2 linked regions of the Homo sapiens genome follow. The protein of the gene in region 2 interacts with the protein of the main gene of each other region in a pairwise test. Each region holds a gene or a part of one and is shown on either strand. Other genes may lie near its edges.

Region 1 (7,330 bases), on a different chromosome or scaffold from region 2:
GAGATGAATTGTATGTTAGAGAGGACTGAATAAAATCATGCTTCCAACAGCATCAGCTGTACCCAAGATGGCATCACAATTCAAGCTTTGCTAAAAGCTAAAAGACAGTAATATTCTGTTATCTATTTGCCTAAAACCTTATTTTCTATCTCTATTTAGGGAGAAAATCAAAGCTAATACACATTCATGTGGGATGGATTCCAGTATACATTTGCTATGTTCCCATAAGGTTATTTAAATTCTCCTTTTTATCACGGCACTTGGCAAGAAGATACTTAGATGTGATCAATTAGAAAGTAATATTATTAACTGCATTAATGTCATATTAACTCAATTTGAAGATCTAGCAAAGATTGAATTACTGTATAATGCTTGTTAATCATATGAGGCTGATTAACCCAACTAAAGAACAGGGTCCAGGGGAAATGGTAAAATTCTTAGGCATCACCTGGACAGGGGAGATGAGAGGCATCCCTCAGACAACCAAAAATAAGTAATTGTCTCTGCCAGCTCCAAAATGAAAGCAAGAGGTGCAAAGATGTTGGCTTGTTAATGTGGTGGAGAAATGGCATACCCCTGTTAATAAAGTTATCAAGAAAAAAGCTAAATTTGACTGAAGTTTTGAGCAAGATAATACATTTGTATTTTTTTTTGTTTTATGTTTTTGGAAATTAAAAAGCCCTTGTAAAGCCCTGTGGGGCCCCACGAGTCCCAAACACAGACGATTTAAGAAGTTTCTGCAGCACACAGTCAAGCCATGCTGACTGGAGCCGCTGGCAAAAGCCTGTTACTGCCACCTAGTGGCTGCCTGTGGGATTTTTGTAATAAAAAGCTACCTGGCTGCAGCTTGAAGTAGCACCATTTAAAAGGAATTGCTAGCTTGTTACTGGGTTTTAGTTGAAACTGCTTTTTGTACTGAAGGACATAAAATTATTTGAAAACTCATAACATCCTATTTATATCATATCATCATTCCAACAAGAAATGAAATGCACAGAATTCCCTCCTTGAATAGAAAGGAGATACTCAAGAATGTGAAATGGGGTTACCCAATGCATGCACAGTCAGGTGGCTGACAGGTCACCATAAATTTGGTTCCCCTGAGGAGTTGGCTAAACCTATAGCTGAATAGGCCCCTCTCTCTGGTCAGCTGTCAAGGCAGCAGTGTGGCTTACAGATAGATGGCAGTTCAAGGGTAAAGGGCTGGCCGTCAACCTGGGAAGCAGCAGCCCTGGGATCAGTTAGTGATTGCATGTTAGATGAAAAGACAAAAAATAAATCTGCCCCAAGGCTAAAATTGAGTGATGTTTCTCTTGGCATCAAAGAAAAGTAGATACTAACAATACTCGTATGGCATAGATGTTTACAGCTTTTACTGATTCTTTTTCAGTTGCCTGAAATATTGACAGGCAATATAGTTTAGAAAAGGGACTTAGACGATAAGTTCCTGGATGATATTTAAAAAGGGAAATCAAAGAATCTATTGCTGAACAACAGGTGCTGGAGAGGATGTGGAGAAATAGGAATGCTTTTACACTGTTGGTGGGACGTAAACTAGTTCAACCATTGTGGAAGTCAGTGTGGAGATTCCTCAGGGATCTAGAACTAGAAATACAATTTGACCCAGCCACCCCATTACTGGGTATATACCCAAAGGATTATAAATCATGCTGCTATAAAGACACATGCACACGTATGTTTATTGTGGCACTATTCACAATAGCAAAGACTTGGAACCAACCCAAATGTCCATCAATGATAGACTGGATTAAGAAAATGTGGCACATATACACCATGGAATACTATGCAGCCATAAAAAATGATGAGTTCATGTCCTTTGTAGGCACATGGATGAAGCTGGAAACCATCATTCTCAGCAAACTATCGCAAGAACAAAAAACCAAACACCGCATGTTCTCACTCATAGGTGGGAATTGAACAATGAGAACACTTGGACCCAGGAAGGGGAACATCACACTCTGGGGACTGTTGTGGGGTGGGGGGAGGGGGGAGGGATAGCATTAGGAGATATACCTAATGCTAAATGACGAGTTAATGGGTGCAGCACACCAGCATGGCACATGTATGCATATGTAACAAACCTGCACGTTGTGCACACGTACCCTAAAGCTTAAAGTGTAATAAAAGATAAATAAAAATAAATAAAAATTAATCCCCCCCCCCAAAAAAGAAATCATTAAGCATGGTCAACTTTAGAAGAATGCACTAAGGATAGTTAAGAAGGCTTTTACTTGTCACATGCTTTTCATAGTATTAATCATAAAACATATTACTCGTATAATTTGGGGAAAATCAATGAAACAAAAGATATAAAAACATTTTGGCTGGAAAAAATATTAATTTATTGATTTCTGTTTAATTGTATATTGATAAAAATTAACATACAATTGTTTAGTAATATTGATGGTTGCTGGTTGATTGTAATTAATAAAAGATGGACTGTGGTAATTATGTTCATCATTTTATAATTCATATAGCTCATCCACTAGATAGTTTCTCTTTTTTTACTGATCAAAAGCTATTTGCTGAGAATACACATATTAAATATGGGTATATTCTATAATATACACATATATAATTTAAAGATATTTTTAAAATTGTATTACTATAAAACAGAGAATGCAGAGAAAATTGACCAGTACCTTGAAATAATAAAAAGTCCCTTTGAGAACAAGAATATTTTCTCACACATGGAAAATTCGTGAGTCACTGGATGTGGGGATTTACCAAGTCATGTACATCATACTTATGCCTCCTGACTCGTGAACTTAAATAAACTGAGACCAGTGTGATCTTATTCTTAAGTATCTTTAAGTAAGGAGAAGGCACATATCTAACTATTCTTCCAGAGAAGCATTAATTCTTTTTTTTTTTTTTTTTTGAGACAGAGTCTCACTCTATCGCCCAGGCTGGAGTGCAGTGGTGCAATTTTGGCTCACTGCAACCTCTGCCTCCCAGGATCAAGCTATTCTCCTGTCTCAGCCTCTCAAGTATCTGGAATTACAGATGCGTGCCACCACACTTGGCTAATTTTTGTATTTTTAGTAGAGGTGGGGTTTCACCATGTTGGCCAGGCTGGTCTCAAACTCCTGACCTCAAATGATCCACCCACCTTGGCCTCCCAAAGTGTTGGAATTACAGGCATGAGCCACTGCTCCCGGCCCAGAGAACCATTAAATTCTAATATCTAATTGAAATTGCTTTTTCTGACCTTCAAATACATTTCTCCTACTGTAGGCTGTAACATAGAACTAAAATCCCCAAATAATTGAGAACAGGAGAATTAAACTGCCTGCTGGGTCTCTGAGACTTCAGAAGCTGCGTTATGTTGTGAAAAACTAAGCTGAGTTTCAAAGTGGTCTAATCACATGAGGCTGTCCTGCTGAGGGGGACTCTAGTAGTCAGCCTAGTAGTAGCAGCCTAGTAGTCAGCATAAGATAAGAGGGACATAAATCCACAACATTAGAATATTCAAGAGCTGCAAATGAAGAAGAAAGAAAAACCATAAAAGATGAAAAAGAGGACGGGCGCGGTGGCTCACGCCTGTAATCTCAGGACTTTGGGAGGCTGAGGCGGGCGGATCACGAGGTCAGGAAATTGAAACCATCCTGACGACCACAGTGAAACCCCGTCTCTGCTAAAAATACAAAAAATTAGCCAGGCGTGGTGGCGAGCGCCTGTAGTCCCAGCTACTCGGGAGGCTGAGGCAGGAGAATGGCTTGAACCCGGGAGGCGGAGCTTGCAGTGAGCGGAGATCATGCCACTGCACTCCAGCCTGGACGACAGAGCGAGACTCTGTCTCAAAAAAAAAAAAAAAAAAAAAGATGAAAAAATTCAGGTTGCCATGTCCTAAATACATACACTATATGCCCAGCTTTGTGCTATGTTGTCTAAGTCTTCTTTTCAGTTACCAAATGTGTGGATGGTACAGATCCAAAGTGAAATTCAGAGTGCAGAGGTGAGCTCCATATTGTCAAGGAAAAACTGGGGGATGAGTTATGCCTTGAAGAAACTAGAGACATTTGGTCCAACGAAACGAAACAACATTTAAAAAAAAAACTCTCCTGTTTCCCCATGGCTAGCCTATTTGTGTTGATGCTTACCATTTCATAATTTCCTCATTTTGTTGTTACATGGAGTGAAGAGAACTGACATGCTGTCCAATAAACTTCCTTGTCCTCCTTATGCAAGAAAGGAAATCCTGACTTAATGCGTAGCCACAGAACAAGTTAATATTCTACATCTATCGGAGCTGAACTTCCTAAAAGACAAAGTGTTTATCTTTCAAGATTCATTCTCCCTGAATCTTACCAACAAAACACTCCTGAGGAGAAAGAAAGAGAGGGAGGGAGAGAAAAAGAGAGAGAGAGAAACAAAAAACCAAAGAGAGAGAAAAAATGAATTCATCTAAATCATCTGAAACACAATGCACAGGTAAAATCTGCAACTCTTCCTTTCCTTCCATAGATCTCTTTTTGGAACAAGTGATAAATATGGTGAAAGACAGGACAATAGAAAAGTATTCACTGAAGTTAAAAAAAAAAGTGGGGGGACAGAGGAAGAGAGAGAGAGAGATTTAAAGACTATTTCTTATACCAGAAAGCCTGCTGGCCTCTAGCTAAGGGAGAGCTATCAGTTTCCACCCTTTCTGCAATACATTGTGTCCCTTTTGGCAAGTCACTTCACTTCTCTGGAACTCTCTTTGTCTGTAAAATGTTTAATGGGAGGAAGAGAGGAACTATTAGATGACTGTTAACATTTTACCTAATTTACAAAGCGCTTGAAAAGTGAGACACAGAAAAAAAAAAAAGATCAGGAGAAGGACAAGAAAAGCAAAGACGAGAAAAGGGAAAAGAAAGAAAAAGAAAGAAGGGGGGCCTTAGAAAATACTGAAAAAAATTTAACTGAGAGACTTAGAAAGGAAAAATTGTATATCTGAGTTCATGAGTCAGAGTCTTACTCCAGGGGTGCTAAACGTGTGGTCCTCAGACCAGCAGCAGCAGTAGCCCCTGGGAACTTGTTGGTTCCATACAAACTCTACTGAGTTGCTAACTCTGGGGGTAAGGGTCAGCAATCTGTGTTTCCATAAACCCTCCAAGTGATTCTGAAGCATGCTGAAATTTGGGAATTACTCAGTACAAACAATGGAAGTAGAAGGAAATAAGTAAGGATGAATAAGAATCTCTTCTATCTCTTTTGTACCTTGCTTAGGGAAGATTGATCATGTTTGTGTCTTTCTTTCTACAGAGAGAGGATGCTTCTCTTCCCAAATGTTCTTATGGACTGTTGCTGGGATCCCCATCCTATTTCTCAGTGCCTGTTTCATCACCAGATGTGTTGGTGGGTTCTGAAGGTCAAATTCAATTTAATTCTTCCTGGTGCATATTAGGAGAAAACTCTTCCATGCTGCCTGTAGACTCTCTTTGCCCTCAAAGGGTCTTTCTATTTCACCCTTTTTTTTTTCCCTATTAATCTCTAGGTTATTTCTCAAACCAGAAACCTCAACAAGCAGGGAACTGTTTCTGAATTTTAATCACCTGTGACTTACTTTTCATGATAGACATTTTTCACTTCCTTGGCAGTCCTGAATCCTCCTCTTTCAGCCTCTATCATTAGTGTAACCTTCTCTAGGAGAGTCTGCCTTAGAGCTTGAACTACTGGTCGGCACCAGAGATATGACTAATTACTTTTGGAAGGAAGGGTAGAGAGAGTTGGACTTGGCATAAGAGGTAGTGCAAACATATCTATTTTCTCTGGGTCGTAAGAAAAAGCAGATTGTAAGAAAAAACATGATAATTATTGGCACTTTTGTTATAAATACAAAACTGAGGGAACTGACATTTTTAACCGAAATAAGACTAACAAACATTATGCCCTTTCTTTTACAGTGACATTTCGCATCTTTCAAACCTGTGATGAGAAAAAGTTTCAGCTACCTGAGAATTTCACAGAGCTCTCCTGCTACAATTATGGATCAGGTATAATAGTCCCAAAGGTGAACATCAAAATTTACAAAGCAACATTTTCTGGCTTCTAGATTGACTTTGGGACAGGTGAGATATAGCTGGATTAGGTCTTATTTTTCAAAAGCAAAATGTAAAATCCTAGAAATTTGGTGATGCAATTAGCATTGGGGCAGAAAGTCTTGGGGACATTATAGTAAACTTTTAGAATAAATTTGAGGGGTATGTCTGAACAGTAAATCTGGAAGTGGAAGGTATTATTCCCAGGAGTGTACCTTTTTTTTCATTCACCTACTTCCAAAATGAGATGGAGAAAAAACGTATGGAGTAGAGAATTTATAAATATCTCACAAATATACTCTCTATGCTCTTCTATGTCATCCTGTTGCAAGTCCTAGCAAAATGCTACATGACACTAAAAAAGTGACTTCCTTCTCTGAGCTATAATTTTCTCACCATTAAATTGAGAGAAGTTAGAAGAATTATTTATAATAGACCTCAAAGGCAAAAGTTCTGTAATTCTAAGAAATCTAACTGTAGGGACCAGCCCCACAGGGTTGGTGGGTCTCTCCCTGTGTCCAGAGACGAGAGCATGTAGAAATAAAGACACAAGACAAAGAGATAAAAGAAAAGGCAGCTGGGCCCAAGGGACCACTACCACCAATGCGCGGAGACCGGTAGTGGCTCCGAATGTCTGGCTGCGCTGTTATTTATTGGATACAAGGTGAAAGGGGCAGGGTAGAGAGTGTGAGTCATCTCCAATGATAGGTAAGGTCATGTGGGTCACGTGTCCACTGGACAGGGGGACCTTCCCTGCCTGGCAGCCGAGGCAGAGAGGGAGAGGAGACAGAGAGAAAGACAGCTTACGCTATTATTTCTGCATATCAGGGACTATTAGTACTTTCGCTAATTTACTACTGCTATCTAGAAGGCAGAGCCAGGTGTACAGGATGGAACATGAAGGCAGACTAGGAGTGTGACCACTGAAGCACAGCATCACAGGGAGACGGTTAGGCCTCCGGATAACTGCGGGCAAGCCTGACTAATGTCAGGCCCTCCACAAGAGGTGGAGGAGCAGAGTCTTCTCTAAACTCCCCCAGGGAAAGGAAGACTCCCTTTTCCTGTCTGCTAAGTAGCGGGTGTTTTCCCTTGACACTTAACGCTACCGCTAGACCACAGTCTGTCTGCCTGGCCACGGGCGTCTTCCCAGACGCTGGCGTCACCGCTAGACCAAGGAGCCCTCTGGTGGCCCTGTCCGGGCATAACGGAAGGCTCGCACTCTTGTCTTCTGGTCACACCTCACTATGTCCCCTCAGCTCGTAGCTCTGTACGGCCTGGTTTTTCCT
Region 2 (2,973 bases):
AGTTCCCTCTGTTTATTGTTGTATTCTTTCTCTCCCTCTTCAAGACTCAATGATGAGGCACGGCGGCTCATTGCTGATTTGGGGAGCACATCTATTACTAATCTTGGTTTTAGAGACAACTGGGTCTTCTGTGGTGGGAAGGGCATTAAGACAAAAAGCCCTTTTGAACAGGTTAGTGTCATAGACTCTCAGAATTAACAAAAACAAATTCTGTGAAACCTTACGGTACATTTTCCCATCCCAGCTATTTGAAAATTAGATAAAGCGGATAGTAAATATGATCATATATTTGTCATAAATTCTTGGTAATCAGTTATTTGAAATAACTATCGTACTTTTAAATTTCAAAACTTGAAAATTCTGCATGGGAATATTTTTTCCTACAGGACAATGCATTGGAATAGGATTACCTATCTTAAGCCTTTTCGGAAGCTTTAGTTATTAAGGATTTTAATTGAGCTTTGGATTTTAGAATCAGTGAAGTTTGGAAATATTTTAGAACTTAGTAGAATGTAAATGTTAGTTTTTGAGTAGCAAATAATCCTTTAAAAGCACGTGCAATGTATTCTTTCAGCTGTTATTTGAAGGTCTGCCATGTATGTGATACAGCCTGAGGGTCACTCATTTAATATCTTGACCAGTAATTTAAATGAACTTATTGTTGACATGAGTATTACTGAAATGAGAAGTGTGTAAAATGTTACGGCAAATCAGCAGTTTACAACGGTTTTTTAAACTGTATATTATTACTGTGTTCCAATAGCACATAAAGAACAATAAGGATACAAACAAATATGAAGGATGGCCTGAAGTTGTAGAAATGGAAGGATGCATCCCCCAGAAGCAAGACTAATGGAAATGTGGAGAGAATTGAAGAAAGCGCACTTTCACTCTTAATGGGAGAGCTATAAATGGCAGAGCTATGTGTAAATATTTTAAGAGCATGCAGCCATCTTGGTGTGTGCATGAGTATTGTCTCTTTTGATATCAGGATTATTTATTGCTAACGTAAATAGATAGCATTGTAAATAATCATCACAATGATCAAATCACTGAACCATGTCTCCGCACATTTCCCTAAAAGTACAATGTTTAGACTGCTATGGTAATACATATTTTAAATTCTAAAAGCATACACAATGTGTAACTGAATGGTTTGTGAAAAATATATTGATATATATACTAGTTGCTATGAAAATATCATGGAATAATAGGGATTTTAGGGTGGATACTTTATTTTCTTTTATGTTTCTATATGTTGCGTTGTGATGACATTATCTTTTAAATTAAAAAGAGATTTGGCTAGTTGTGTGTGTAATGTTACTTTACAGTCCGACTCTCCTGATGTACCTCTTTTCATGATCTTTTTCTTTCCTTCCCAAGAAACTGAGGAATGTTTAATATGAAAACATACATCGGATATGTGAAAAGCACAACAAAATTCTTAATGTACACAGTAAAAAAGTAAATATATAAATGTAGATGGCATTTAGGACCACAGCTTGCTGGATTTGTGTTAGCTATGGGAATAACTTGATTTTGTATAAGCTATTTAGAGTGAGGCTGGAGGTGGCAGCTTCACAGAACTGGAGAACCAGGCCAAGTCCCCTCCCCAACCTAATTAGGTCATTCAGGACAGCTAAGTCAGTATATTTAGAGCAATACTAGCATACGTTTTTCTTAATTGTTATCAGCATTGACCAAGTGGTTTGGAAGGAGGCATGCTTTAATATCACAATAATTTTGATTTGTAAACCAAGAAATTAATCCTGTGTTTATCTAACTTCATAATAGCAATTATTGCCCGAAGCTATAGTGGCATATTTACAAAAGTTCTTATTACTGGGCGGACTGATAACATTTAAAAAATAATTGTGTTTGACCCCAAATGACTTTATACCCAATTCTACATAAAAATATAGAAGATCTATCTTTTTTTGTTACCTTCAGATGTTCACTAAATAACTCAGTTTTTAAGCAGAAGTTTTCAGGGCATTAAATATATGTTGTGTATGAAGTATCTCAAACTGGAACATAAATTTAGTGATCAAACTGCCATTCACAGTGTAAGGCAGCACTTAAATTTCGAACCTAAAGTTTAGATGCATTGTATAAAAAAACCTAAAAGCAGTATCTGTTATTTAGCTGTAAACCAAGTTGGAAGCTATTCGGATAATTTCTTAAATATTGATGAACTTTGGAGTACTGTTTCTTCCTTCAAACTGAATGTAATTAATTCATGAATAAATGCACCTTATATGTTTAAACAATCTTTGTATACTTTTGGGATTTTTGGTGCTTATATGCTAAATCACATTCAGCATGTGTATTTTGACATTTAAAATACTTCCCTCAATTCTGTAAATTAAAAGAATAGTTATTTTACAGTTCCAGGGATTGTGAAATAAATGTTGCAGTTTTTTAAAATAATGAAAATAAATACTCTTGGTTTTGCTTTGTGAATTTTTTTTTTTTTTTGTATTATCTGGCAAAGTAATATACCTACAGAACTTCACAAAAACTCACACAAGGTTTTTCAAGCATTTATTATACTGCCTAACTTGGAAAAAAAATTGTTGCTGTGGTTAAAAATAGTAATATCCTAGATGTGTCTTAACATGTAAGAAGCTAAGTATCTAGATGGCGGAAAAAGCCCTTTTATTAAGACTGTAAAAGGATAGCTTTTCCAGATATATAAAATGTTAAAAGAAGACAAAGATTGGTTATGTTAACTGGTGTGGTTTCCTTTTGTCTCAGTTCAATCTTGTATAGATTGTGCCAACTTAACTTTGAAAGCAATAACTTTATACTACATTTTCAGATACCTCTTTAAAATCGGTTTTAGACATGAAACAGTGCTCATTTAATATTAAGAATGTTCTTTATTAAAATCAAATTAACATTGACATAGTATTTGAAATGGTGCTTATGGGCTTATCGATGCATATTTTTTATTTGTAATCCGATGCTGTC

What was found. Proteins that work in one complex are often made in the same cells at the same time.
Region 1: the proteins of FAM3C (region 2) and CLEC4E interact in binary tests that used the Homo sapiens proteins (3 or more experiments, as listed by UniProt).

What each region holds. Positions count from the first base shown.
Region 1 is NC_000012.12:8,537,886-8,545,215, reverse strand, and holds the start of CLEC4E (C-type lectin domain family 4 member E), read left to right. Parts: upstream 1-4,310; 5' UTR 4,311-4,418; coding exon 4,419-4,455; intron 4,456-5,268; coding exon 5,269-5,361; intron 5,362-5,909; coding exon 5,910-5,999; coding exon of another isoform or gene 6,000-6,016; intron 6,017-7,330.
Region 2 is NC_000007.14:121,348,341-121,351,313, reverse strand, and holds the end of FAM3C (protein FAM3C precursor), read left to right. Parts: intron 1-44; coding exon 45-171; intron 172-763; coding exon 764-853; 3' UTR 854-2,436; downstream 2,437-2,973. UniProt on the Homo sapiens protein: May be involved in retinal laminar formation. Promotes epithelial to mesenchymal transition.